7 linked regions of the Homo sapiens genome follow. The protein of the gene in region 1 interacts with the protein of each later gene in a pairwise test. Each region holds a gene or a part of one and is shown in the gene's direction. Other genes may lie near its edges.

Region 1 (4,438 bases):
GGTGAACTTTTGGTGCAAAACTGATATTGAGAGCAAATAGGCCAAAGCTTGCTTGAGAGAAGTCTCCCAGGCCACCATAGGCAGCCCCAGGAAGACGGGGCTGTCTAGCAGTTGGATAGGTGGGAGTGCCTATTATTTGTTAAAAGGCTTTTTGCCTAACTTGTGAAAGTTTTTTTTCCTCAACTAATTAAGGGTATCAACGCATTGGTTGTATGTTGAAAATGTTGAAAATGTTTTTTTTTTTTTTCCAAGTTTTCTTTCTTTTTTTTTTTTTATACTGGGTCTTGCTCTTCTTATCCAGGGCTGAGGTGCAGTGACACAGTCACAGCTCGCTGCAGCCTCAACCTCCTGGACTCAAGTGATCCTCCTGCCTCAGCCTTCTGAGGAGCTGGGACTACAGGCTCATGCTGCCATGCCCAGCTAATTTTTAAAGACTTTTTTTTTGTAGAGACTGAGGCTCAGTATGTTGCCCAGGCTGGTCTTGAACTTCTGGCCTTCAGCGATCCTCCTGCCTTGACTTCCCAAAGCATTCATATTACAGGCATGAGCGACCACACCTGACTGAATTTCTTAAATTTTTTATGTAGTCAAATCAATTTTCTCCTGTGCAGTCTTTGCCTTTGCATTCACGCTTGGAAAGTTACTCCCTGAAATGGGTATTAATCAACCAAGAGCAGCAGTTCTCAGGCATGGTTCCTGGACCAGCAGCATTAATATCACCTGGGAATTCAATAAAAATGTACATTCCCAGGCCCCCACCCCAGACCTACTGAATCAGCACTGGGGTGGGGCTTGCAATCTGCGCTCTAATAGTCATCCAGGGGATCCTGATGTTCCCTAGCTTGAGAGCCTCCCGTCTAGAGCAGGGGCTGTCTCCTTTGCCTGTAAAGGGCTAGATAATATGTTTTAGGATTTGCAGGGCATATGGTTTCTGTTGCAATGATTCAACTCTGCCTTTGTAGTGCTAAAGCAGCTATACACAATATACAAGTGATGGGCGTTGTTGTGTTCCAATAAAACTTTATTTACAGAAACAGGCAGTGGGCCAGATTTGGCCAGCTCCTGGTCTAATCTAGAGGAGTAAGCAAGGGCTTTGGGGGGAACCTGGAAATTGGCTCCCCTGGCTAGTTCTCACTTTTCTGAGCCTGTTGCAGTGGGGTGCTGGTAAATGTTTAGCACCAGGTCTTCAGGGGGAAAAAAGCCACTGTTTGTTTCCACAGTATAAATACTTTGGCCATAGCTGATTTCATGCTGCCAAGGTGAAGTGAGGAATTGGGAAGAGATAGTCACGTTTGGCTCTTGTAAGCCAGTTTGAGCCAGTCTAGCATAGAACTGCTCTGTTGTGTGTGTATAATATTGGGGTCACAAATTAAGGTTGTTATAAATAGAATGAGGATGAGGATGGTAATAATTAGAATAAAGGTTGGATTATTACTCTTGAGTCTTGGTACTTATAGGGAGATGAGTATATATTTTAAACTAATTTTACACACACATACTTTTAAAATATGAAATTTCATCTATATTTAGAGGCTTCTTAATAGTTTTTAAGATATTCTGAGGTCTTTATCTCATATCCCAAGAATACATTTAAGATATAAAAAGTAAATTCTATTATAAGGAGTACTCTTTTCATCCATATGTGCCTTTTTTTTTTTTTTTTTTTTAATGGTTACCCAGGGTCTTGGTCTGTCACCCAGGCTAGAGTGCAGTGGCACAATCATGGCTCACTGCAGCTTTGATCTCTTAGGCTCACGTGATCATCCTCCTACCTCAGCCTCCCAAGTAGCTGCGACTACAGGCGTGTGCTATCACACTTGAAATTTTGTTTAGTGTTTGTAGAGATGAGGTCTAACTATGTTGCCCAGGCTGGTCTTGAACTCCTGGGCTCAAGTGGTCCTCTTGCCTTGGCCTCCCAAATTGCCGAGATTACAGGCGTGAGCCACTGTGCCCAGCCTCCAGTATATTTTAATACCATTTCTACAAGATTTAGATCAATTCCAAATCAAAATGAGTGCTCGTAGGAGGTATGAGTGCAGAGTCTTAAAATGAAAATCGTTAGAATTTTGGTAGTTGGCAGGTTTCTTATTTACAACTAAGACTTTATCATTTTGAGTTTTCTACTTCTCTACGTCTTTAGGCCCTTGCACAGGGCTAAGAGATTTAATTGAAATCTACTGAAAAGAGTGGCTGACAGATCTTATAGCTACATTTACATGAATTACATAAAAGCCCAAAACCTTCTCAAGAAGCCTTTTTTGAGATCTAAGGATACATGGCAATAGTTATTGTATGTTACAGCGTATGTTATAGGCAGTTCTGAAGGAAAGGATTCGATGACTATCTTTTTTTGGCACAAATGTGATCCTTCTGGAGGCCAGAAGATAGATTCAGTGGGCCCCAGTTCTTTCAGGTTTAAGGAATAAGCATTTTGGTCTATGAAAAATGGGGTTTTCCTAAAGTATAAGATTGTCTTATATTTATAAATGCCTGTGTTCATTGCTGTGGGTTCACTGCTTTCTCTTTTGGGCAGCCATATAAATAAAAGAACCACCTACTTGGACCCAAGACTGGCGTTTACTGTGGATGATAATCCGACCAAGCCAACCACCCGGCAAAGATACGACGGCAGCACCACTGCCATGGAAATTCTCCAGGGCCGGGATTTCACTGGCAAAGTGGTTGTGGTCACTGGAGCTAATTCAGGAATAGGTAGGCTCTTCACTTAGTTATTTATCTTTGGGACTGCTATAATGAGATCCACTTAGATCTAGCTATAATGGAATTTTGTTTAGTGGTTCTCTGATTTAAACATGACTTTTATCCTTTTCAGATATCGTTTCATTAACATCACTACCTCTTTTTAAATCCTAATGTTGTCATGGAAGCCTGTGTAGGGGCTGACCTTGAAGTCTCTGAAAGCTGAACACTCAGCAAAAGACTGTGGCTATTTTGGTATTCAGGGATGAGAGACAACAGGCTCCGTCTAAGAGTTTTTGACCTGGTCTGCATGGTGTATGGGCATATTCCAATTACCTGGGTTATTCAAACCAAAATTGATTGGTAATAGAATACGGGGAACAACAAGGTATTATGTCTTTGGAACAAAGGATACTACAGGTTTCGACTGGTCACTGAGCATATCATTTTCTTTTGGGCACAGGATCTTATTTCTCTATAAAATTGGAGAATGAGTTCCTGTCTTCACCTCTTAATTGCCAATGTTTACCCACAGGGACTATCATGGGTAGATGGCTCAAGAGGGTATCCTTGCTTCAATATGATGGGCCATTAAGGAGACAGGAGCAAGGCGGGAGCAAACCATAACTCTTCATAGGATTTTATTCTGATTTTGCTTTGATCTATTTACATAAGTATCTGAATCAGTGAGAACCACCTGCTTTGAGTTTAGATATGCATCTTCAGATTTGTCGACATATGAAACGTTGCATTTGGCTGTCTTCTGTCAAGTTCTCTCTGTCCTTTTGGTCCCCCGCAGCCCTCACACGGCCCCCTTGATGCCCTCCTCTACTCATTTGTTTCTCTTTCCTAATTTTGTTTTTATTTTTATTTTTTGTGGGTATATAAAGGTGTCTATATTTATGGGGTTCATGAGATGTTTTGATACAGGGATGCAATGTGAAATAGTCACATCATGGAGAATGGGGTATCCATCCCCTCAAGAATTTATCCTTTGAGTGATAAACAATTCAGTTATACCCTTTTAGATATTTTACAATGTGCAATTAAGTTATTATTAACTATAATCAACTTGTTGTGCTATCAAATAGTAGGTCTTATTCTTTCTTTCTATCTTTTTTGTACCCATTAACCATCTGCACTTCTTTCTTAATTTTGAACAATTCCTTGAAGCTGCAGAAATATTTTCTAGCATGATTAGGGAGGCACAGGAGGTAAAAATACATTGTTCAAGGGTCAATTATTGTGTTGTACAAGGTGTGAAATCTACCAGGTTGCCATCCGAGTGGAGAATTTTTTTACTGTACTTGCCTATGAAGGTAAAGAAGCAAATGGAAATTTTTTTTTAAGAATTGAAAGGATTTTATTTCAAATCAACTCTCATACCTCATCCTGGGCTCCAAATATGTTCAATCCACTTGTCTGAACTTCTGCATTGGAGTAAATTTTATATAATTGTCATTGAAGTCAAAACTGATGGCGTAATATTTAAAACAATGGCTGGATCCCCAATCTAAGAAGAATACATTTTGTTGATCATATTAAGTACTGTTACAGTGAATGCATGGACCCATACAATTGTGGAATAATTAAGAAAAAAGGACTTAAGGGCTTAAAAATGTCTTTTTAACAATTTAACAAGTTAGCCAGAAACTTTAAAGATCTTATTCTCTTAATCTTCTAGCTAGACTCTTTTTCTGTAATGAGTAAGATATGTGACTACTGATTGTTTTTTGTG
Region 2 (4,837 bases), on another chromosome or scaffold:
TAGCATGTCCTTTGCATATACATATTTGTAGATGGGGTAAGTCATCATATTCAGCCTGTTACCTTTTGAGTGTTTTCTCTGTTATAGGTAATTTTCCAAATGCATTACATACATTATCTCTTCTTTAATCCTCAAAGCAAGTCTCACTATTTTTAATCTCACTAAAATACAAATAAATTTAGATTCAAATTATGCATGTCTTAGCTGGATTATTGCTAAATTGAATAATGTAGGAGATTAACATTAATTATAGCCCTTTGAGAGGGGAGTGTTTCTTCCTAATATAGTATTTTCATCATTTTCATCATTTTACTTTAGCCAGTTGTGGAAAGGGAGCTTATCACTGCGATTGGGTTAAGAGAACAGGAAAAGAATAGATATTTACTATGAAGATTTTTCATTACATAATATTTAGATCAACATCGGTATATCTTTAGGAAAAGGTACTTTCAGCTAATTTTTTAATTGTCTCAACAATAAAAATGTGTGAAATATTTTTCCATACTAAGGATTTGTTTTCTTGACAATAAAAAATCAAATCCTGAACTTCCACATAACCTGACTAGTCCTTGGATTGGCAGCCCTTGGGTCAAACACCCTGCATAACAACTTGAACCATCACTAGCTAGAGAAGACAAATGCAAGGCTGGTCCCACAGAAGTGCCTTGGAATTTTTTGTTTGTTTCATTGGTGATATGAATAAAACTTTTACCGGCATGTTAAGGGCAAAAGCCAGGTTGAAGAGCAAATGGGAAGTGAGAAGTGGGGTTGGCAAATTTAGAATACTCTTTCATAGAGCTTTGCTTTGCAGGAAAGAGGTGAAAAGGAGGTCACAACAACAAGGGTATTGGTGGTTGAAACTGAATCTTTTATAAACAGGGAAATATCAATTTATATTTATTTCCCAAATGATGTCTTCGACCTCTCTGTACGTGTTAGGTGAAAGCGGCAAGATTAGAATCAAGAGGTCAAATCAACGGGCCCTACAGTAATTTGGGTAAAAGTAAATGACAGATGAGAATGAAAGCAAGAAAGATGATAAGAAGTGGTTAGATTTAGAATTCAGGGAGTGGGATGAAGAGCTGATAGGATAGGGAGAAAAAAAATTGAGTTGAACATAAATGATAGTGTTTTTCTGAAGAAAATGAGCTAATTAAATGGCAGATATTACTTGCAGAAAGTAAAAGAGAAGACTGACAGAGCCAGGTCCCTCAGAAAACAATTATAAAGAAAAAGAAACTGTCTAGCTATCAATGACTCCATGGTTGTGTGGCCAGTAAATCAGGGAAGTTCGTTTCTAATTGCCTGAAATATCTTGGTGAAGCAGGAGAAAAGCCAGTTTGGTGGGGGTAGATGAGAGCTCAGGATGAAGTGGAGAATGTTTATAAAATTGGCATCAACTTGGAAAATTACAGGCCTCTGGGGAAGTGGGAAGAGATAATCTAAGGTAAGATACTCAAAAAAGGATTTCAGGCAGCACTGAAGGACGCTAACTTTCTGATGGTACAGTGCTTGTGACATCCTCTAGCATTGTTAAGAACCTGGAACTAGGAATCCAGGAGAAAGATGGTTTACCGTAATACTAAAGTTTAGGATTAGCAAGGGTAATGGCCAGACAAATAGGTGAAGGGACTGAGAACCACAAGAAGTGAATGTAGTTTTGTGCCCTATATAAACCATCTGCTCCAAGCAACCTGGAGTTCTTGCCGTCAGTAGAGTGGAACTTCATTCTTACCCCAGAGCATTTGCATATTTTCCTTCTATTTGGCATGCTCCCTCCTTATTTTGTATTCTTTAAGCCTCTTTTCAATAACTCCTTATCACAGAGACAATCCTTTATCATTTTCCTATCCAGAACTGATCTCTTTAAATCCCTAATGTATTTGTTCCTTGCACTACTTTTCAGCTATTTTTAGATTTTTAATGGAGATGGGGTCTTATTATGTTGTCCAGGTTGGTCTTGAACTGCTGGCCTAAAGCTATCTACCTACCTCAGCCTCCCAAAGTGCTGGGATTACAGGCATGAGCCACCATATCCAGCCTCAGCTATTTTCATTTCTAAAAATTGTACTCTATGTAAACCAGACCTGAGATAAGCACCACCCTAGGCACTTTACAGGTGATATTTCACAATAGATGTGACAACAACCGCAGGAGATGGGTACTTTTATGAACATCATTTTCCTGATAAGAAAAAGAGACTCAAAAAGGATTCTATACTCACCCTATCTCTATGTGCCAGAAGGAGAGCTCAAACACTGGCATGAAATCCCAGACACTCATTCCATTCATTTCACTTCCCTTTAGATCACATTTATCCCCCCCTGTATTGTAATTACTCAGCCTGTGGATTCATAGAAGACATGTTTGTACCCCTGGCAAACTGCCAGGTTGACATTCATGACATGAATGAACCAGCTCCTTCATTAGCTCATTGCACAAAATAGTTGCTCACATGTGTTTCACAATTAATTAATGTTCAAAGCCCAGAACAACCCTGAACTCTTGAATTAGACATAAAAAGACGTGTCTTTCCCATGCTGCAAAGGCATTTATTTCCATTTAGAATTTGGAATGACAGACTTCACTACAGGCCAAGGATAAGATTTTTGCTCATTATCTATTTTTTCCAGTCAATACTATCCAAGCTTTCATTGAGAGCCTAGGTATTCAGAGGGCAAAAGAGAAACATTTTTCTTTGATACAGAAGTTCATACATCATAACTTAGATACATTTAACAATTTTCTATTGCTCAATAACAAATTACCACTAATTAGTAGCCTTTAAAAACTCATTATTATCTCAGTTTCTTTGGCCATAACTCTGAGCTTGGCTTAGGTGGCTTCTCTGCTCAGAGTCTCACAGGCTGAAAAGGTGTGTCCATTGCTGTATTTTTTTTTTCTGCACCTCAGTGTCCTTTTTTAAGCTTGCATGGTTGTTGGCAGGATTCAGTCCCTTGGTTGTTGGACTGAAGCCCCTATTTTTTTTGCTGCCTATGAGCCAGGGGCCACTCTCAGCTCCTATAGCCAGTCTACCATGTACTTCCACATGGCCCTCGCCACAACACGGCATCTTGATTCAAAGCCCAGAGGAAAGCATTTGCTGCAGCTTCAAATCTCTCTGATTCCTTCTCACATTGTAGAACCTGTTTTAAAAGGGCTCACCTGATAAGGTCAGGCCAGCATGTGCCAGCAGGGAGTAGAAATCTTGAGGCCATCTCAGAGTTCTGCTTACCATAGAAACCATTCACCCTTATATTTAACTGTGAAATATCTGATTTAAAATTATTTACTTCTTTGTTTCCACAGCCTGGTGAGAGTCAAAGAGGCCCCAGGGGACCATATCCACCTGGACCACTGGCTCCTCCTCCTCCACCATGTTTTCCTTTTGGAACAGGATTTGTTCCACCACCCCATCCTCCACCCTATGGTCCAGGGAGATTTCCACCACCCCTTTCTCCACCCTATGGTCCAGGGAGAATCCCACCATCCCCTCCTCCACCCTATGGTCCAGGGAGAATTCAATCACACTCTCTTCCTCCTCCTTATGGCCCAGGTTATCCACAGCCACCTTCCCAACCAAGACCCTATCCACCTGGACCTCCATTTTTCCCTGTAAATTCTCCAACTGATCCTGCCCTCCCTACTCCTGCACCCTAAATACAGACAACTGCAACAGGTGCCACCACCCACAAAAGACAACACTACCCTCGTAACTACTGCTTCTACTACCCAAAAATAAGAATTTCAACACTACTTCCAAGAGACTTTTAGATAAAATCACTTCCATTTTTGGATGAGAATAAAGATTTCCAAAGCACTGAGCTTTTGGGAGAAATATCTTAGAAATTGTGAAACGATCCCCATGAACCTTTATATCAGTAGGGGAAAATAAAGAATTGAGCAACAATATGAAGTATCCACTGTTATCAGAGCCAATAGTTTACACCCCAGTTATGTCACCTAAATGAATATTAGTGCTAACAGAGCCTGGCCTTGTCCCATGAAGCCAAAAAAGTAAATTAAGGAAAAATGCAATGAGACACTTGGACTTGAACCTTAGAGTTACAAAGTTAGAAGAGTAGGCAACAAGATGCCCTCTTCAGTATGGCAACCCATCATACAATTACAAAGCCCAAAATAAGTGTTAATAGATACTAAAATGAAAGAATCTTAGCCCTTACCATAGCTTGCCCCATAAAAATTCCTGAGTACCATCTGATCACTGCTTATAAATAGTTGCAGAGAAGAAACACCATTCTAACAAACCTAAATATCTGAGATGTGAATCACAAGTCTTAGAGTTTGATATGAAAAAATCATTTTCTAAGCTAAGATAGAGATAGGAAATGGTTTCAGATAGCAATAAGAAGAAGCTGATGGCTGAGATTTCCAAGTTTCTACTGCATCTATTTGTTGATGTTTGAATCAGAAGTATTATGATACGACTATTTAGGAAATGGCCTCATGATGTCATGAGAGCTTTATCTTTCCATTCCATGTTTGACTTTTTTCTTCAGGACACTTAACTTTCCACATTGCCATCAAACACTTATAAATTAAAACTTCTTAAGACACCTAAAGTAAGCACACAATTTTTATTTGTGTTTAATGCTCTCCTTTTTTTTTTCTTTCCATGGAAAGGGTCTCACTCCCATCACCTAGGCTGAAGTACAATGACGCAATCACAACTCACTGTAGCCATGAATTCCTGAGCTCAGGAAATTCCACCTCAGCTTCCTAACTGGGATTACAGGTGCATGCCACCACTCCTGGCTAATTCTGTTGTATTTTTAGCAGAGATGGGGTTTTGCTATGTTGCCTAGGCTTCTCTTTC
Region 3 (3,676 bases), on another chromosome or scaffold:
CACATGGACACAGGAAGGGGAATATCACACTCTGGGGACTGTTGTGGGGTGGGGGGAGGGGGGAGGGATAGCATTGGGAGATATACCTAATGCTAGATGACGAGTTAGTGGGTGCAGCACACCAGCATGGCACATGTATACATACGTAACAAACCTGCACATTGTGCACATGTACCCTAAAACTTAAAGTATAATAATAATAAAAAAAAAGAAAGAAAAAACAAATTATCTGGGCGTGGTGGTGGGCGCCTGTAGTCCCAGCTACTTGGGAGGCTGAGGCAGGAGAATGGTGTGAACCTGGGAGGCAGAGCTTGCAGTGAGCCAAGATCGTGCCACTGCACTCAAGCCTGGGTGACAGAGCGAGACTGTCTTAAAAAGAAAAAAAAAAGACAAGCCATGAGGGGACATGAGTAGTGTGGTGGGGAGGGCCCGCTGGCCTGCCTGGGTGGGGGCTGAGGAGCAGAGGCCGGATGCTGAGGAGGGGCAGGAGCCACATTCGAGGCCTCCTGCCGGCTGAGGGGCTGGGTGGGTTCCACCTGAGGAGGCGCCACGACTCTGCCCACCCCGGCTCCCATCTCTTCCAGGCTCCTCTGGACCCTTCCCGCTGCCCAGCGCTGGGGACGCCTTCCTCACCCTGCGGACTCTGGCCTCTCTCCAGCCTCCTCCTGGGGGAGGCTGCCTGCAGTCCCAGGTGAGTCTCAGGCACTGTCCCACAGCGCCCAGGTGGGTGGTAGGTTCTCAGAAAGGGTCGTCTTGTCAGCCACCCCTCGGCCTTGGGGCAGCTTCCCCAGAGGTCCCAGCAGCCACACAGGCCATGCTGCGCGGCCACCTCTGGGGCACAGCTCTGCAGGGCCCCACTCTGTAATGACTGTGCCCTCCCCCACCTCCACTTGTCACCACGGCAGCCGCTGGGAACAGTCAGTGGGGATGAACCCCAAGATGAGGGCTTTGGCTGTGGAGGGGAAGGGCACCTCCTAGAGGACTGTGGGAGGACATGGTGTCCTTCCCTCGAGAGGGAGGGGCAGGCAGCCAGCAGAGGAGGCCGGAGGAGAGATGGGGCCTTCCCTCGGGCTCAGACCTCAGTGCCGCAGCTTGGCTGGGAAGGCAGCGAGTGGGGACCGTCTTGAAGACACTGAGGAGGCCCAGGTGTCATGTGCCCAGCACAGGCACGAGGCTGTGTGTGTGGTGTGTGCCAGGGCACTGCAGAGCCGGGTGCCCCTCCCAACTCACCACTCTCTCCCAGGGGTTCAGAGAACGGATGCCTCCTGTGCTGTCTGTGGGGTCCCACCTGGTCCTGGGAAGCACACGTCCCACACTGTCCTGCTGTGGCAGCTGCCCCCCATCACCATGCAGCCCCCAGCCAGGGACACACGTGAGGGGCCTCACCTTGCCCTTTGCACCCCTGGGACCTGACTACGCGCCAGCAGCTGTGTGTCCACCCCAGTTCAGAGCAGAGTGCCCCCAGGTGGTGCACCCGTCTGAGCTGCTCCCACACTCACGGGCAGAGCAGTCCCAGCCACTTCCTTAACCTGTACCGTGCCCACCATAGTGGGGGTGGGTCCTGTGGACAAACGTCTTAGCGCCGTTGGACGTGATGCCGTCTCTGCACTGCAGACAGAGCCCCCACCCCTTATGACAAGTGGTTGCCTCCCACCCTCCTTGCTGCCCAGCCAGGCCAGTGTTGGGCCAGGTTTCAGAGCCCCTTTTTCCCACCGAGTCTCACCATGACGCTCCGGGCGTCATCATGGGCTCCAGGCCTGACCTTGCCTCCCTGCCCCTCGCCGGGCAGGAGCCCTTGTTGTACCCGATGCCAGTCAGTCCTTTGCCTAAGCCCCAGGGAAGCCACTAGAGGCCAGTTTTCCTGCCGGGGAAGCTCGTCCATGTCCCATGTCAGGTGGCAAGGCCAGCTGTGACCCAGGACCGACCCCTCCATCCCTTCCCTCCTCCACTGAGCTGGAGGTCATCTGTGGATCTTTTCCAAGCCTTCCCAGGGACCCCTGGAGGCTCCGCCTGCAGCACGTGGGCTGGGTAGTCACCAGTCTCACGGCCACCCACTCTGATGCTCAGTCTCTGTCGTTTCAGGCCCAGGGTAGCTGGCAGGGGGCCACCCCCCAACCTGCAACTGCCTCACCTGCTGGAGACCCTGGCAGCATCAACTCCAGTACATCTAATTAAGTTTGGGGGATAAGCAGGAAAGAGCGCTGCGTGAGCTGCCATGTATCGCCAGCCGTTGCTTTGTTACTGAACGTGCCGCCGACGACCTCAGAAAACCCAGATGGGTGGTGGTGCCCATGAGCCCCTGCTCCTCAGCCAGGCCCGTGGCGCCGGCTCATGTGTCTGCTGCGACTCGAGATGGCCTGAAACGCCACTCATTCTCCCACTTCAGTTCGTTTTTTTGACAGTAATTTTATGGTAACGCTATGAATTGAATTGTCTGTTCTAGGACTGGGCACAGATTTTCCCATTAAAATTTTTGACTTATTTTAATTCCGATGTCTGTTTGCCAGATTTGTTTTGGGTGGTAGTTGACACCGGTCACAGCTGCAGTGTCATGTGTGCTGTGATTTTGCCACTCACCTGCGCCGCTCAGGCACAGACTCCCAACACTGTCTTCTGTGGGACCGTATCATTCTGTTCTGATTTTAAAATGTCCTGGCTGGGAGCAGTGGCTCATGCCTGTAATCCCAGCACATTGAGAGGTCGAGGTAGGAGGATTGCTTGAGCCTAGGAGTTTGAGACCCGTCTGGGCAACATAGTGAGACCTCGTCTCTACAAAAAAATTCTGCTTTCAGATTTTTTTTTTTTTTGGGGGACAGATTCTCGCTCTGTCACCCATGCTGGAGTGCAGTGGTGTGATCTCGGCTCACCACAACCTCTGCCTCCCAGGTTCAAGCGATTCTTCCGCCTTAGCCTCCCAAGTAGCTGGGATTACAGGTGCCTGCCGCTATGCCCAGCTAATTTTTTGTATTTTTGGTAGAGATGGGGTTTCACAATGTTAGCCAGGCTGGTCTTGAACTCCTGAGCTCAAGTGATCTGCCCGCCTCAGCCTCCCAAAGTGCTGGGATTATAGGCTTGAGCCACCGTGCCCGACCGCCCCCCACCCCAAAATTTTTTTAATTAGCTGAGCATGGTGGCGCATGCCTGTAGTCCCAGCTACTCAACAGGCTGAGGAGGGAGAATCACCTGAGCTCGGGATGTTAAGGCTGCAGTGAGCTGAGATCACGCCACTGCACTCCAGCCTGGGTGACAGAGTGAGACCCTGTCTCAATTATATATATTTATTTTATGTTCGGAGCTCAATTTTACTGGGAATTAGTTTTGCACTTTTTTCGGGTTTTGCTCTATTTGCTCTTTTGCTGTTTTTTTGTTTTGTTTTGTTTTGTTTTGTTTTTGAGACAGAGTTTTGCTCTTGTCGCGCAGGCTGGAGTGCAATAGCGCCATCTCGGCTCATTGCAACCTCCACCTCCCAGGTTCAAGCGATTCTCCTGCCTCAGCCTCCTGAGTAGCTGAGATTACAGGCGTGCGCCACCATGCCCAGTTAATTTTTTTGTATTAGTAGAGACGGGGTTTCACCATGTTGGCCAGGCTAGTCTCGAACTCCTGACCTCAGGTGAACCACCTGCCCTGGCCTCCCAAAGTGCTGGGATTATAGGTGTGAGCCACTGCGCCCAGCTGG
Region 4 (4,438 bases), on another chromosome or scaffold:
CTAAAAAGATTTTAGGATTTCAATCCTTAACAAGGATTGAAAACTACCAGGCTGGCGTTTGACTAGAACTGATTTTAGAGGGAGTTCTTTTAGGCCTAGAGATTCTGATGGTGAGTTACAAAGGCTTATGGCTTTACACGGATGGTAGGGCTAGGGGAGGGCCTCGGATTGATAGACCAATTTTTCATTTTACAGAAGAGACCCCTGGCTCACCCAAGGCCCAGAGCTAGAGAGAGCCAAACCAGGCTGAGAAGCCTGGTCCCTGCCTCCAGGTCGGGTGCTCCTGCCATAAATGCCCTTGTCAGGAATGGGGCATAACCTATGACTTTGTATCCTTCACTCTTTTCAAGCCTTTTGATGACTAATCTTTCAAAGACAAATTTTTATCAGATCTTTGGAATGAACACCTTAATCATAAAAACTGTAGTTTCTATTTCATTCATTCTTATATAATATCTGCAATGTTATTTTTTCTAATAAGGGCCTCCTTAATTAATTTTAACTTAAATTCTCCTTTTTTCATCATTGTTATGAGACATACCCTGTAAAACCACACCATCCAGATTTCATTTGAGAGTAAAAACCAGGCAGGACTAAAAATGGTCTGAAAGACTGTCTCAAGAACAAGGCAGTGACTTTCTCTACTACCTGTCTTTTCTCTATTATCTGTGAGGACGGGATCTGAAATATTATTTAAAGTTAAAATAAATAACCTTTTTTGTCAAATAGAGAAACGGGTGATGTTTTCACTCTAGAAGGTGTACCTTTGCCTAGGATCTGTCTGTAATACATTATCTTTCCAGATGGATATATATGAGTGTGTTTGGAGGTGACGAGAAGTGAATTGAGTCTGGAAGTATGTTCTTTGAGGTTTGACTGGCAAAACTTGACCAATCATAACCAAAAAAATTCATGCATGCAACACAGAGGGCTCTAGAGCACCACACATTTGATTTAAGATGATATTTAGTCTGTGCTGTATTTAAGATGGGGAATAACAATGTCTAAATAGAAATCCTGAATGCACCTACTGCATGTGTTGTTTGGCCTCACCCACAGGTTTCCTCTCCAGCTGTTTGCATGCGATTTTATATCAGAATTCAGGTCTCTTTTTATTCTTTTATTACACTGAGGAGCTCCTGTGTTGCAGGCATGATTTCTCCAATAGAACACATTTCAGCCAGTTTTATGCAGTCCTCTCTCTGTTGGCTTCCTAAGGGGGAAAAATACATGCAACAACAACAACAACAAAATTTTTGTTTTTGTTTGAATTAGCTGACTATTAGAAGAAATACATGTAATCTCTATTTGCCAGATCTGGTAGGACCATTTCACTTTATCAAAACAAGATCTTCTCCTTTAAGTAAGTTGGCTTCTGACTGGCCAGGTATTAATTCATGCATCAGACAGTAGAAGGCATTGGGATAAAGTCCGTTTCCACCAGGGTATCTAGCTATGGTGTGGTGCACCATCATGAAGGGTCTGATTTGCCTCACTGCAATGACAACATTGTGCAGAAAAACACTGACTCCTAGGAGGAGAAACAATATTATAGGCTCAAGCTTCTAAAATCATATCAGGGAATGATCCTGTGTCGAAGGTGACTGTCAGAACGCTGGGGGCCTCCAGGGTCATTTTCTAAACTACAGCATGACAAAATGTTCTCTTTGTCTATTCTCTGCATTTTCCTTCAGGTAGTGTTTCCCTAGATTCATTCTTTAACATCCATTTCAACTACTCTGCCTTGATGAATAATCCTGCAGTAACAAGTCACAAATGTGTACACAGCAGAGCAGAGATATTTTTCCATAAGGAAAATAGATTTTTATATCAAATCTTAGAAGAAACAATTAGCAAAACAAAAGGGGGGAAGAAGAGTTGAAATTAGATTGATGGCATAACAAGCTCTGTCCATTCGTGGCTCTGCAACAATGAGCAGCCTGAGACTGGAGGAGGGACGCAATTCCCAGAGAGCTGCCTTGAGCTTATTGTGCTTCTCTGCCTCAGTTTCTTCATTTGTGATGAGAATGTCGGGCTCACCCAGCACTGTCCGGTAGTGAGAGCTGCAAATGTGAGCTGCACATTTCATTTTAAACGTTTTAGTAGCCACATTAAAAAGGTTAAAAAGAAACAGGTGAAGTCATTTTAATAACACTTTGATTTAACCTGATATATCCAAAATATTATCATTTAAACATATAATCCATATAAAAATGTTAATGTACTACTTTACATTCTCTCTTTCTCTCTCTTTTTTTTTTTTTGGTACTAAATCTTTGAAATCCAGTGTGTATTTCACAACTACAACATATCTCAATTTGGACTAGCCACATTTCAAGTGCTCAATATCCACGTGTGGTCGGTGACTATGGTATCAGACAACACAGGGTAAATCAGTGGTTTATGATCCTGGCAGCCCAGTAGTACCACCTGTGGAACTTATTAAAAAACACTGATACCCTTCCACTCTGACATTCTGATTTAATTGGTTTGGGGTGAAGGCCTGAGCCTCTGTATATTTTAAAAGCTCCACAAGTGTTTCCAATGTGTAGCAGAGGTTGAGAACCACGGTTCTAACTGATCTCTAAGGAATCTTCTACTCTAATATTCTATGATTCTATTTCAGGAAAGGGATTGCAGTAAAGCGTTCATTCAGAGTTCAAGGGCAGCAAGCAGTTGTTACAAGCATGCTGCACCCTGCAACACATATTTAAGAAAATATAACTGATAAAGATTAAAATTTACAGAATGAATAACTTAGACAATAATTCTTTGCACCACAAATGGGCTCTGTTTTGTGTAACTTTCAAACGTGGGTGTTTTAAATGGTCTGCTTCACTAGAAATCTTAATTTAGGATTTGATTTACATGTAACCTCGTAGAAACCCTCTGTTTCGGAAAAGGTCAGGATTCTCACATTTCAGTTACAGTATTTTGCCAGCTTACTCTTTTGCCCCAGATACTTGCCTTTAGTTGTTTGGGGAGGGAAATTTTTACTCCAGTTGAGACATCTGGATCCCCCAGAATTTTCTTCCTTCCAAGCTTTTAACAAACTTGTGTTATTGCCTAGACCAGATTTTCTCATGTCAAGATGTTAGTTATAACCTCCTAGACTTAAGGTATTCATTTTTATTTGTCACCTTTTAAAATATTAGAAGAATCAATGTTTTTCAATGCACATCAGAATGCTTTATTTTAATATACCTGTTTTTTATAATACACCAGTCTGTGCATTCACTAAAGGATGCAAAAAGTATAAAATAAAAAATAATTTCCAAACTCCTCACGCACCTTCTTGTGAAGTCTACAGACAGAATTGTTTGTGGAGGGGAGGAGAGACCTTGGTGTCAGCCTCTTGTGACTTCATGCTGCAGAGAGCCTCTGCATCCCCAAATTCATGAGTCATTTCACTCTGACCCTCTCTCTCCTTATCCCCTGCAGAGCCATCTATGTCCAAATACATGTCTATTCAACCATATCGCCTTTAAAGCATGACTATAAACTAGTTTTAAATATAAAATTACATGTTTTTCTACATTTTGTGGTGATATTTGTGTTTTCTGTAATGTCATTCATTGGAAGAATGTTAGCTTTCATTTATTAACACATATCTCTAATCCCCATTTTATAGATGGGAAAACTAAGAGATTGCCAAGGCTAGGCATCCTGCTCATTGATTAGATGGGTGGTCGGTATGAGAAAAGAGCTCACATTTATTAGTGCCATGTATTCCAGATATTCCAGATAGAAGCACTGCTTTGGGTTGCTTCCAGGTAGGGATTTTCCAATTGCTTGTACTATTGCGCTTGTCTTTGTATTTATAAATAACATTCTTTCGGGTGCTTTCCCATGCATTATTTGCAGTTAAATGGTTTCCTTGCTAATACCTCTTACTTTCCAGCTTCAGGCTACATGTAGCTGGATTGATTAGTAAATACATAAGGATATATTAACTTCTTAACATGGAATCTGTTTTAAAAGTTGCATGGAGACATCTGTTGCAAACCTGTGTGTTTGGTAGTATCCAGGGAAACTTTCTCTCAGGCTACTTTGTGATTGACTGTTAAAAGTATTGTGTGGAGAGACAATGAGATTAATGATGTAAGTTACTCATCTGTTTTGGGGATTGAAGGCAAAGGTCTGTACAGATTCATTTGTTGAGCAAGATAGACTCTAGCCCTACCTCCTAAATTATCTTTTATAAAACACTTTAGCCCTTGTCGTGCCAATGTACTGTCTTCACACTTGGTCTGGAGCCATCTGTGTTTAAGTATTTGGTTTTTGTTTTCTCCTAACAATGGTGATACGTTGGCTTGGCCATTTGCAGTCTCTGTCTGCATTTCTGTGTCTTTGATGGGTGAGCTGTTGATTAATAGTGCAATTTTCGACCAGTGCCAGGGGGCGATTATTTTGGATTCTTTCCTCCAAGCATCATGCT
Region 5 (4,098 bases), on another chromosome or scaffold:
GAGCTGATAGTGCACAGTGGTCTCAGCTCATTTTCATCCCAAGATACGCTGATCGTTATGCAAAATATGAAGGTCATACGTTAATTACAAGGGTTTGATTTCATCTGAAAATTATACGTCTGTAACAAAATATCATTAAATCAACATTTGGACAGGGTTTCTAATCCCTTCTCCTTAAAACAAAAAGCAACAATCTCTACAGGCAATGATACAGTCCTGATATGTCAGTGTGCTGAGCTGACATCCTAATATAAGGGCGATTATGCAACAGTAATAAAGATAGAAATATGTGCCTACCAACAGGAAGTTAACAGTGCACCCTTGAGAGGGTCCTTTCCATTATTTCATCCACAAGAATGGATAAAATTTCTCTGCGCAATTTAATTCAGTTTGGCTTTTCAACCAAAGCACGCCAAGCAGGCAGAGTGTTAGTGTAAGGATAACAGAAGCTGACATTTTCCAGCACTTCCTATGTGCCAGGCACTGGTCTAAGAGTTTCACACATTTAATGGTTGCAGAAACCTTATAATGAGGTTACTGTTATTAAGTTCCATTTTTAAGATGAAGGATCTGAGGCTCAGAGAGGTTAAGTGGCTTGTACAATTTGTGAGGGACAGAGTCAGGAATTGAACCCAGGCCCGTGTGGCTCCTAAGTCTCCACTATTAGGAAGACAGTATAGGTGAGAACAGGACCATCTGCCACTCAGAAGCATCCTACCTGGCTACCATGGACCTTTGTCATTCAGTCGTTGGTATTTATGTCTGAGTGAGCCCAAGCTTAGCAACCCCTGGACCACGTGCTTACATCACGTACCTGAGCAGTGCCATGTTCACAACACAGAGCCCAGCACATGGATGTCTGTTTTTACTTACTTCTAGGCTATTGTTACAGGTGAGGGTGTCCACACGATTTACATAGCGTGTGTCTATGTTTGTATCATTTTTCTAGGCAGAAGAAAATCAAGACAGCAGTGGTCATTTCAGCAACATACCTCCCTTGGAAAATCCAGAAGACTTTGATATAGTTACTGAAACCAGCTTCCCTATTCCAGGGCAGCCTTGCCCTTCCTTCCCAAAGTCTGATGTTTACAAAGCTACCTGTGACCTAGCCACCTTTCAAGGAGACAAAATGCCACCCTTCCAGAAATACTCAAGCCCAAGAATCTATTTGCCTAGGCCACCTTGCAGCTATGAATTGGCAAACCCTGGTTATACAAATTCAAGCCCATATCCCACCCTTTATAAGGATTCCACCAGTATCCCTAATGACACAGACTGGGTTCATCTGAACACACTACAATGTAATGTCAATTCATACAGCAGCTATGAGAGAAGCTTTGATTTCACCAACAAACAGCATGGCTGGAAACCAGCTCTTGGAAAACCCAGCCTTGTGGAAAGGACTAACCATGGGCAGTTTCAGGCCATGGCCACTCGCCCTTATTATAACCCAGAGCTTCCCTGCAGGTACCTCACGACTCCACCACCAGGTGCCCCTGCCCTACAAACCGTGATCACCACCACCACTAAAGTGTCCTACCAGGCCTACCAGCCCCCTGCTATGAAATACAGTGACAGTGTGCGAGAGGTGAAGAGCCTTTCGAGCTGTAACTATGCTCCTGAAGATACTGGGATGTCTGTCTATCCAGAACCCTGGGGTCCTCCGGTGACAGTCACCAGGGCAGCCTCTCCTTCAGGGCCACCTCCTATGAAAATTGCAGGAGATTGCCGGGCCATCAGACCCACTGTGGCTATTCCCCACGAGCCAGTTTCCTCTAGGACAGATGAAGCAGAGACTTGGGATGTGTGTCTGTCTGGGCTGGGCTCCGCAGTCAGTTACTCAGACAGAGTGGGTCCCTTCTTTACCTACAACAATGAGGATTTTTGAAAGACAATCCAGGGGACATAATAGCAGTGTGCATGCAGGCAGGAGGCAGGGAAATGTGAAATGGCAATGATCTCTTATTGAGTTGGGAGATTCACCTTGTGTGCAAAGAAACACAGATAGTAGTAAAAATTCTGAGTAACTGAGAAAATAATCAGTTGGAAATGATTAGATAATATGGGAAATTTCACACAGCATTTTGAAACTGGCTACAATACATAGAAGTAGTGAGGAAAGTGTGAGTCTCTCAAATGAACAAATAAGCAAACTGTAGGAGGTTAAATACTGACCTAAGTTCACTTAGCTTATTAGCAGGAGTAGAAGTCAAGGATTCTGGTTCTTATTCTAGGACTTTTCCCATTAGAGCACCTTAGGGAATTTCACATCCCTAGAGGCTGCCAAAATAGCTTCAGGAAGAAATTTTTACAATCTTATCACCTGAGTCATTTCATGAAATTTTTGTTTAGCATTTAGAACCTGTTAAACTAGCTTCAGGAAGTAATTTTGATTGTTTTATCTCCAACGTGTGTATCTACAGCTTTTCAAAAAATCTCTAGCAATGGTAAAGTTCAGTTGTTTTTAAAAGATTCAATATTAGCTTTTCATAACATGATAGTTTCCTAACCTTTTCATAACCTTTTCATAACATGATAGTTTCCATAACAGAGACAGCCTAACAATGATGAGTTGTATTTAATGGATTACCATTGTACTAAATACATTTTTTTTCTGATTAGGTTTCAGAATTATAATTAAAATGTTTTGCTGAAATACAGCTTTACGGTTCCTCTGTTATTCTTCATAAAGGTAATTGATAATGTTCAATTAAATGTAATAAGGACATTTTAAATGAAGCTAATTCTTGCCTGACTTCAAAACAGAAATAGGAAAAAAATTGTTCATATTATGACCTGGGAAACAGTTGTTATGAAACATTAAAACTTATTAAATTGGCTGAGAGAGGTGGCTCACGCCTGTAATCCCAACACTTTGGGAGACCAAGGCAGGAGGATTGCTTGAGCCCAGGAGTTTGAGACCAGCCTGGGCAACAGGGAGAGCCCTCATCTCTGGGCAACAGAGAGAGACCCCAGGGCATGGCAGTGGGCCTGTGGTTCTAACTACTTGGGAAGCTGAGGTGGGAGGATCATTTGAACCCACGAGGTCAAGGCTGCAGTCAGCCATCTTTGTGCTACTGCACTCCAGCTTGGGCAACAGAGCAAGACCCTGTCTCAAAAAAATAAATAAATAAATAAATAAATAAAACAAGTATTAAATAGTTTGACTGTTTTGTAGTTTATTTGCAAAATACCTGCTGTTGTACTCTGTCATAACAGAAAGCCTTTTCAAAACATTTGGAGTGTTCACACACACACTTTAGTGAAAATATTCTGTTTTCAAATAAAGATAAACTACAGGAGCAATATATTTTGGGGGGGGGTGCCTAGAAGTATCATCCTCAAATTTGCATAGAATAATCAATTTGTATAACTAAATTGTAGTCAGTCAGATGCCATTTTAAATCATTGAGCATTCTGTATCATCCAACTAATTCATAAAAGCCTAATACTCCAACATCATAAATGCATGCAGTACTTAACAAAAGATTGAGTAGGTATGAGTACACTCCTATGAGTTTCTAACCAACCAATTTTTTTTAAAGGGAAAGATGCTTAGTACACTCATTGGTTACTTTTTCCTTTGAACTTCCATTGCCAAAACTCACAAGCTATAATAATATCTAACATTTATATAGCACTTACTGGCCAAACATGGTGGCTCACACCTGTAATCCTAGCACTTTGGGAGGCTGAGGCAGGTGGATCACTTGAGCCCAGGAATTAGAGACCAGCTTGGGCAACATGGCAAAACCCCATCTCTACCAAAAAAAAATACAAAAATTAGCCGGGTGTGATTGCACACAGCTGTAGTCCCAGCTACTCAGAAGATTGAGGTGGGAGGATGGCTTGAGCCCAGGAGGTAGAGGTTGCAGTGAGCTGAGATAGCACCACTGCACTCCAGCCTGGGCAACAGAGCTAGACCCTGTCTCAAAAAATAAAGAACATTTTTTTTTAAAAAAAAGAAAAAAAATTAAATATATATATATATATATATATATATATATATATATATATCAGTATTTACCATGTGTCAGACATTGTAAGCCCTGAACATACATTAATTGATTTAATCCTCACAGCTGTCCCCTGAGCTAC
Region 6 (4,438 bases), on another chromosome or scaffold:
GCAAGTATCAAGAAAAGTACAAGAAAAGTCTACCTAAGTTCCTTTCCTAAATGAGAAACCTTTAAAGATTATTTACGCTTTCAAAGAAATTGCCTAATCTAATTTCTGCTTTGCTAGCTGCCATTCTCTTGACGAGGCTTTTCAGCTCATCATTGCTTAAAATATGGCTAGAATTAAGTATTAGTTTGTGTGATCTTGAGCCATCTTAATCTCTTTGAGCCTCATTTTTCTTTTCTGTAAACTGAGATAATACCTCATAGGTGATTGTAGTAATTGACTAAAAGTTATAAATTATGGAGTAATAGATAATCAGAATAAGTTTATTCCCTTCTTCAGTAATTGCCCATGGTTTTTCTGTAATGTTGATGCCACTTTAGAACTTATCACTGCCTCATTCCCAAGCTGCTATTGTAGTTTCGAAGGTGAGAGGGTTGTGGTGGCATTTTCAATTACAGATGCTCCTTTACTTACAATGAGATGACATCCTGATTAAACCCATTGTAAATTGAAAGTATGTAAATTTCAGTTTACAGTGGGGTTATCTGGACTTAATCGAGGAGCATGCTGAATACTTATCATTTTCATACAGTTGTAAAGTTGGGAATTTGCAAGACAGGCAATTGTAAGTCAGCGACCCATCTGTATTGTGTATTTTTTCATTCATCGAGGATATTTTCCTTTATGTCTTTAGGCATGATTATAGCTGTCCTGAAGTTTGTGTCTGGTAATCTTAGTTGATTTTTTTCTTGAAAATGTGTTTTCCTTTTTTGTTTGTTTCCCATATGTTGAACAATTTTGGATTGTATGCTGAATTTTGTGAATGATACGTTGTAGAGGCTCTAGATCCTGTTTTATTCCTCCAAATAGTGTGTTTTGTTGTTGCTATCCATATCCCTTGTGGGCAGCAGATCAAATATTGGTTCCGTTCTTTTAGCTAGGCTCCTTGGAGTCTGCAGCATGTACATGCATGGTTCAGGGTTCAGCCAGAGATTTCCGTAGAATTTATATACAGAATGTATAGGGCTCCCTCCCCCTTTCTGGCTCTTCCTTTTCTAGGATTTCCCACTTTACCATGTCTGTTGTTCCAAACTCTCACTGAGGCCTGCCTTCAGGCTAAAAGATGTGAAGAAAAAACAAAAACCTCATTGGTTTTTTATGAATGTAGACTCCCCTTCTGTGTCTGCCTGTTTGGTTGTTCCCCAGTGCCTTCAGAAAGCTTTTGTTTTTATAAAATATTTTGTCCAGAGTTTATAGTTATTATTCAGTGGTTTGCCCTGACAGTGTCTACTTAGCCATACTAGAAGTATGCCATCTTGTGTGGTGGTACTTTTCCTTCCAAATTTTAAGTTTTGTACAATGAAATGTTTTCCCCATTCCATTAGAGATTCTTAAACTTGATTTTGTAATGTCCCAGTGTATCTCCATTGTGACTCAAAGGACTCTAAAGAAGTTAATGTAGGAAAAACACCCCAAAACATTTAGTTTTTTATTCCTGCTGTAACAAATTTCCACAAAACTTTGTGGCATAAAACATTATATTTTTAACCTTACAGTTCTGTAGGTTAAAAGTGACACAGGTCTCAGTGGGCTAAAATTAAAGTGTAGCCCGAGCTTCATTCCTTTTTGGAGGCTCTAGAGGTGAATGTCTTTTCTTGGCTTTTCCAGCTTCTAGAGGCTGCTCTTGGCCCCTTCTTTCATCTCCAAAGCCAGCAAAGGCAAGTCTAGTTCTTATATCACATCACTTCGACCCTCCTGGCATTCATCACATATCCTTCCTTGCCTCTTGGTAAGAACCCTGTGATTGATGACATTGGGCCCACCTAGATAATCCAGGATAATCTCCCTATTTTAAGGTCGGCTGATTAGCAGCCTTAATTCTCTTTTGTTGTGTAAACTAATACTCACAGGTTTCCAGGATTAGGATGTGGTTATCTTTGAGAGACCATTATTCTGCCTGCCATAGCCATAAATTAGCAGTTTAAGGAGAGAGAGAATGAACAAACTTTAGTTTATGCAGTGAGGTTCAGTAGGCCACTATTGCAAACTGCAGACTCGGATCTTTTTATTAGAGACTTGAACTCAGTTTCCATTTCAAAGTAATAAAAAGTTGACTTTCCTTTCTCTTTGGGCACTGTTTAGTACCTTAGTGCTCAGAACATTGAGTAATAAATTACAGGTCTGTTGCCCATGCTGTATAACCTATTGAGTGACAGTCAGTCTGATTTTCCAATGAGGAACCTTGTCACTAGTTTTTGAATCAGTTCAGGAAGCATGTTATAAATCAGTTGTAGGAAATGTCTTTCATTACAAAACATCAAAGACAGTTTACACACATTTTGGTTAGGGGGAAGGTGGCTTTATCTGTCGGATATTTTGCTAGGTGTTACCCCATTTTATGTGTGAGATATATGAAGATTGCTGGACAAATAAATGCCCAAGATCACACAGTAGTAAGGGCTGGGTTTATTCGCAAGTCCTGTTTTGTTTTGTTTTTAATCTACCTTTCTGAAGTTGCTCAAACAATTGAAGTTGCTAAGGGAAATCACTATGTATGGTGAAGATTTAAATTTAATAGGCACTCTAATAATAAAAGGTGTACCAGTGTAAGCAGACTAGGGAAATGATTTCACTTTGCTTAGGGAAAAGAGATGGAGGTTTAGGGGCTTTAAAGGGGTAGGAGATGGAGGTTTAGGGGCTTTAAAGGGGTAAGAGGAGGAGGTTAACCTTGGTCATGATGGATGAGTGGAAGGTGTAAGTTGAGATAATGCTGTAGGTATAGCTAGCTACATATACAAAGACACTGAAGTGCATGAGGTGAGACTGAACCCCGGGTCCACTGGATGGGCATTTCATTTCTATAAATTATTCTTGTCCTTAGAACAATTGGTTGTTGCTTATATCCATGTGGGATTTTAGATATCTAAAGAATGTTTTCTTTAATATATGGTCAAGATGGCTGGAATCATTAATGCTGTTATCTTAATCTGTAATGCACAGTGCCTGTAATACCTGGGCTCTTCATGCAGCTTTTCTATAATATAAAATTTAGCCAAATTACATTTGTTAATTCTCTCATAGTATGGTAAAAATTACTTACATTTTAACCTGAATTAACATTTTTAGGTAAATTACTGATGGAACTTTATTTGGAGGATGTTTGTAAAAGTCCTCCTATTTCTATCTGAAAATACAGCAAAACTTAAATTTTAGTGGTTAAGGCATGTACTGAAGTCAGGAAAATCTGTATGTGGCATTTCATTTATTTAGCTGTGTGAGCTAGGGAAAGTTTTTCCCCCTTCTTTGAGCCTTAATTTTCTCACCTGTAAAACAAGATAATAATACCTACTTGGTAGGCTTGCTGAGAGGAATAAATGGATTATAGTGTAGATTTGTAGTTTATAGCATGAGATCTGACATAGAGTAAGCATTTGTATTTATGATTATCCTTGAAATAGATTTCACAATTATTAACCCAGCATCAACTTTGTTAAAATAAAATGCACTGAAAAACTTTTGTTTTTCATGGAATTTTTTTTTTTTTTTTTTTGAGACAGAGTCTTACTCTGTTGCCCAGGCTGGAGTTCAGTGGCGTGATTTTGGCTCACTGCAACCTCTGCCTCCCGGGTTCAAGCGATTCTCCTGCCTCAGCCTCCCAAGTAGCTGGGATTAAAGGTGCGTGCCACCACACCCGGCTAATTTTTGTACTTTTAGTAGAGATGGGGTTTCACCATGTTGGCTAGGCTGGTCTCAAACTCCTGACCTCCAGTGATCCACCTGCCTCGGCTCTCAAAGTGCTGGGATTACAGGCATGAGCCACTGCACCCAGCCTCAAGGATTTTTTTTAAATGTAAAATTACCTAGTCTGAATGAATGTATTGCAGACCCTGACTTTTTTAGGAGGTTTCAGTTTTCTTGCTTGAGCTGGCAATAGGGGAGGCTGTAGGTAACAAGTCAGCAGATGTTGTGAACAGTGAGAGGAAGGCACGGAGGGACCTCAGACCACTTTGGATTCACTAGAGATGTTTCATGTGTGCACTGTGACTCTTGCACAGGCAAATAGATATCTTGGTGGATTTAATCTGTAAATATTAGGGATCATCTAAAAGGTATATTCCTTGCCTTAGTTGGCCTCTAATAAAGGAAAAAAGAAGGGTTTTTGAATTGCCTGACCTTAGTCTTGTCTTTCTGACTAATTAGATTACTGCTTCTGTCAGTTTTGTCTTACAGCTTCTTAGTCTCTTATTAACTTCTCTTAGCTGGATGCATTTATAATGCAAATGTCTGATAGAACTGAAAAGTGAGCTTCGTTGGATGGTAGTATTGTTTGAACAACAGAAGAAATTCAGAAAAAGAGTAGAGCCCATGAAAAGACAATTAAGGAATCCTATTGGGGAGAATATAAAACTTTAATTTTTGTCATTTTGAGCTATTGGTATTG
Region 7 (4,438 bases), on another chromosome or scaffold:
TCAGTTTATAGTCTTTATAAATAATGTTGGGCATTAAAATAGGACATCTTTCAAAAAATTACATTATCTAATTAGACAACTTTTCAAAGTAACCTATAGTGTCTTTGAAAATTCAAGCATTTCCTCAAGAGTAGTGTATAGATTTCAAAAATTTAAAATAGTTATATCTTGAAACTAAAGATATATGTCTAATTTTTGTAAAATAAACAGTAAATTTAGCAAAAGTACTCCTAGCATTCTTCTCAAATGTAATACTATTTTTGAAAATATGTAAATATTTTGAGATAATGTTATACAGGTACAGCACCTGTACAACATTAAATATTATTTAAAAATAAGGTATTAGAGCATTCTTAATGAGCACGATGAGAAAAACTGTGGATAGACTTAGCAAAATAATACCGAAGGAAACCAATTAGGCACAATTAAAATGCATACAATTCTGAAATGGATTATTTTAATGAAGTTCTCTGGTAGCTTTCAACAAAAGTTATGGCAGAAAAGCAGGTAATAGGGTCTGTATCTACATCATCAACCACATGAGAAAAGAAATAAGGTTTAGAATCAGACAGATCTGGGTTCAACCCTATGGCTCTTCCCATTTTACTACCATGCTGGGAAAGAAAATACATCTCTTTGGGCCCTAGTTTCCTCAATCTGTAAAATAGAGAAAGAAATCTCGCTTTACAGGGTCACTGTGCAAAGTAAGTGTGATGGTATGCGAATAGTCCCTAACATATAATAAGCACTCAGTTAAAGTTAATTCTTTCCCCATCCACCTTTACATCCTTCTTATGCAATAGAATACACAGATACTATCTGAGCTCCAACCACTGTACTACAATCCCTGCTTACTTTTTGGAGTTTTTTTTTTTTTATTAAATAGGAAAGAGAGAGGACATATGGAAAAGTGAATGTTGATACAATTTAGTGCTGTCATTCACTTAGAACTTTTATTATGTAGTCTTTACTGTACACTATGGAATCACAAAATGAATAGAAGAATTAATCTCTATCTTCAAAGAATTAATAGACATAGAGAGATAGAGCAGATGTCCAAAGAATATCTATATTTTCACTTTCTGTGTATATAATTCAACATCATATGTGCATTTTATTGACCATCAGGAGTAAATATGTGTGTGGTTGTATATGTATGTTTATATATATTCAGAGAGAGACTTTGTGGGGGGAAAACTGCATGCTTTATTAAATGGTATATTCAACACACTTTTCTGTATCTTAATTTTCTCATTTAACGGAACCTCAAAGATGTACCTCCAACGCAACTGTTATAGCCCTAATTAATATCGTTTAAATTGACGTGTAATAATTGTACATATTCTTGGGGTACATAGTGATGTTTTGATACATATCCATCATCTCAAATATTTATTATTTCTTTGTGTTGGAAGTATTCAATATCCTCCTTCTAGCTATCTGAACTATATATTATTCTTATTTGTATATAAATTTATATATAAATAACTGTATTATTCTTATAACACCCTACAGTGTTATAGAAGACTATAACTTATTCCTCCTGTCTAGCTATAATTTTGCATTCTTTAACAAATCTCTCTTGTCCCCACTTCTCTCTACTGTTCCCAGCCTCTAGTATCCTCTGTCCTACTTTTCACGCCTAGGAGATCAACCTTTTTTAGCTTCCACATATGAATGAGGACATGCAATGTTTAACTTAAGAGAAATTTTTAAAGCACTAATTTATGTACCTATTTAGAGCTAGTATCCAGTTATTAAATATTAGAAAATGTCTATGCAATATAGAGTAAGAAAATGGGGAGTTGGGGTATTATTATGTACTTTACTATGAGGCAAGAGTACAAATGGATTCTTCCTTCTGAGTAGATAAGTTGAAAAGTACAATAAGCTCAGTAAACAAACTATAATTATTCCAATTTAGCAAATTAATTTGTTATAGTGATTAGCCAACTATGTATCAAAAAGCCAACTTTTTTCATACATGAATAAATAAGAGTATGAAAATGCCATAATACTGTAAAAATAAAATTTATCTAAATTTCAGTTATATTAAAACATATTTAAAAATCAAACAAGAAATGTAGACATATTGCATTGCTGAATTGTAATATTTCTGTGAGGTTAAATATAAGCACATTCTTTTCTGTAGATAACTCAGCATTATCAAAAAAGAAAAAAGTTGTTATTTAATGATATCTATAAAAAGAAATTAGAAAACCTTGAATGTTCAAAAATGGGAAAAGATTACATAACCATGGTTCCTTAATTTAATAGATTATTGTGAAACCCTTAAAATAATTATGAACATGATACAGAAACATTTAAAAGTATTTTAAACAAATTTGGGGGAAAAACATAATATTACACTAGATGTTCTAGTTATGTGATCATTACGTTTATGGGTGAAGAAAAACTGGAAGAAAATACACAAAACTAAATACTTGTGTTAGGGTGGTGAGATTTTGAGGAATTTTAAACAAATTTTATAAAACTTAAAATTGTCCAGTTTTTAAAGGTCTTACCTCTGTTCAACTCCAGGAAAGGAATAGGAAATAAAATGTGGTAGTTATGGTTATAGAATTACGTATAATATACAAAGACAAGACACAGGAAAGAGAACTCTTTCCTCGGGGAGGTAGGAATGGCTGCATAGAAGGGTGACCTGAAGCCAAGGCTTACAGTAGAAATTCGCACATGACAAGAAGTAGGGAGAACAGTCCAGGCACAGGAAATGAATGGACCAAGTAGAGGGGCATAAGGGGCACCCCAAGCAGCAAGTAACTAGATCCATAGTCCTGGAGCAAAGAGTGTGAAAGGAGAAAGCAGGCGGTGAGGCTGGACGGGCTTAAGGGCCACATGGGTCATGCTGAGTGGTTGCGATTTTGTCCTGGGAGGCATTAGGGTCCCCTGAGCAGGGGAAGAGCTGGCCAGTTAGGAAGGTCTCCTGGGGCAGCAGTGTGGAGGCTGGCTGGGAGAGGGTTAGAGCTAAAGGATTAGTGTTGAAGCTGTGGCAAACACCCAGGCAAGAGACACCTGGACCTGACCCAGGGCAGGAGTAACGGAAATGTAAAGAGAATTTTTTAGAGCAGTGTTCCTCGTTGTTCTGTTTGTAGACCACCTGCATAAGATTTGTATGAGAGTTTGTTAAACATTGGAGTTTTAGGTAATACCTGAGACTCACTGAAGCCAGACTCCTGGAGGGAGGATCCTATTATCTACATTTTAAATACGTATCCAAGATAATTCAGACAAACAATAATATGAGAGCCACTATTTTAGAAATCCTTAGGTAGTATAGTTGGTAACACTTTGTGATTTGTTGTGGGGATGAGGGAGACTTTCGGATAATGCTCTGTCTTGGGCATCTGAGAGTAAAGTGATAACATTTGCTAAAATGACCAAAATAGAAAAAGAAGCAGAATATATTAGAAAATGGCTACATTTAGGTCTAGACAGGTTATAAAGGGTGCCAGTGGATCATTTATTTTGATAAATATAGTAAATAATTCAGTAGAGGGCTTGATTATTTTTTTAAAAAGTCAGAATTATCAATACATAGGTCACAATTGAAGCTATGAATATAAATGGAATTTTCTAGGTAGAGTGCATTGTGTAAGAAAAGAGCTTTGAGGAACAACAGTATTTAAGTGGTAAGCAGAGAAAAGGAGCCTACACAAAAAGATTTGTATTAGATACTGGAGGCAATCTGAAGAAAATTAAATAATCACAAATAACTGTTTAGACATGGAATTATCAGGAAGGGGCTTTTTTTTTGGAGGAGACAAACATTTTAGTGTAAAGAGGAGATAGGCATGCTTTGACAGAAGAAAATCAAAATTATTGCAGAGATGGGAAAGAGCATCAGAGAAATCTAAAAGTAGAAGTCATCAAGTGGTAAAGGGATTTGACATGGTGGAAGAGAGAATTGCAGGGATATAACTAGGTAATATGGCAGTGTAAACAGAAAGTAGATAACTGTGCCTTAGAAAACTGGAAGAGTGTCACTCTATGCATGTGAAAAAGGTTTAAAGATCTATGCCAAGAATTTCCGTGACTTTTAAACAGTATTTACAGAAAATTCCCAGCTGTTATGGGAAGAATAAACTGGGGAGGTGAGATCAGAAGCAGAAAAGCTAGGTAAGAAATCTTGAGGAACAAAATAAAAAGGGGATGGGTACATTGGGAGATAAGAAGAGCTGGGCCTGAATAAGGCCGTGGGAACAAGTTACTTCATCTTCTTGAAGCTCAAACATTTTACAGAGCACTCAGCAATTGAAGACAGACAAGACCCAAACATCACCTCTAAAGAATCAGCTCTGGGAGGAGGGAGATTTTGTCTGCATTGCGATTTCCCCTACCTTAGACTACAATAGGCACTCAATATTAACATTTTTAAATTAATTAATTGTGGTATCTAAAGTCTAGTGTGAATTAA

Evidence for each region.
Region 2: the proteins of WWOX (region 1) and SMR3A interact in binary tests that used the Homo sapiens proteins (3 or more experiments, as listed by UniProt).
Region 3: the proteins of WWOX (region 1) and PBX4 interact in binary tests that used the Homo sapiens proteins (3 or more experiments, as listed by UniProt).
Region 4: the proteins of WWOX (region 1) and CREB5 interact in binary tests that used the Homo sapiens proteins (3 or more experiments, as listed by UniProt).
Region 5: the proteins of WWOX (region 1) and GCM2 interact in binary tests that used the Homo sapiens proteins (3 or more experiments, as listed by UniProt).
Region 6: the proteins of WWOX (region 1) and NDUFV2 interact in binary tests that used the Homo sapiens proteins (3 or more experiments, as listed by UniProt).
Region 7: the proteins of WWOX (region 1) and MYOZ2 interact in binary tests that used the Homo sapiens proteins (3 or more experiments, as listed by UniProt).

The regions. Positions count from the first base shown.
Region 1 is NC_000016.10:78,112,443-78,116,880, forward strand, and holds part of WWOX (WW domain-containing oxidoreductase), read left to right. Parts: intron 1-2,533; coding exon 2,534-2,712; intron 2,713-4,438. UniProt on the Homo sapiens protein: Putative oxidoreductase. Acts as a tumor suppressor and plays a role in apoptosis. Required for normal bone development. May function synergistically with p53/TP53 to control genotoxic stress-induced cell death.
Region 2 is NC_000004.12:70,363,335-70,368,171, forward strand, and holds the end of SMR3A (submaxillary gland androgen-regulated protein 3A precursor), read left to right. Parts: intron 1-3,309; coding exon 3,310-3,660; 3' UTR 3,661-3,824; downstream 3,825-4,837. UniProt on the Homo sapiens protein: May play a role in protection or detoxification.
Region 3 is NC_000019.10:19,560,524-19,564,199, reverse strand, and holds the end of PBX4 (pre-B-cell leukemia transcription factor 4), read left to right. Parts: intron 1-584; coding exon 585-691; intron 692-2,082; coding exon 2,083-2,175; 3' UTR 2,176-2,487; downstream 2,488-3,676.
Region 4 is NC_000007.14:28,415,103-28,419,540, forward strand, and holds part of CREB5 (cyclic AMP-responsive element-binding protein 5), read left to right. Parts: intron 1-4,438. UniProt on the Homo sapiens protein: Binds to the cAMP response element and activates transcription.
Region 5 is NC_000006.12:10,871,785-10,875,882, reverse strand, and holds the end of GCM2 (chorion-specific transcription factor GCMb), read left to right. Parts: intron 1-949; coding exon 950-1,888; 3' UTR 1,889-2,660; downstream 2,661-4,098. UniProt on the Homo sapiens protein: Transcription factor that binds specific sequences on gene promoters and activate their transcription. Through the regulation of gene transcription, may play a role in parathyroid gland development.
Region 6 is NC_000018.10:9,105,162-9,109,599, forward strand, and holds part of NDUFV2 (NADH dehydrogenase [ubiquinone] flavoprotein 2, mitochondrial precursor), read left to right. Parts: intron 1-4,438.
Region 7 is NC_000004.12:119,159,455-119,163,892, forward strand, and holds part of MYOZ2 (myozenin-2), read left to right. Parts: intron 1-4,438.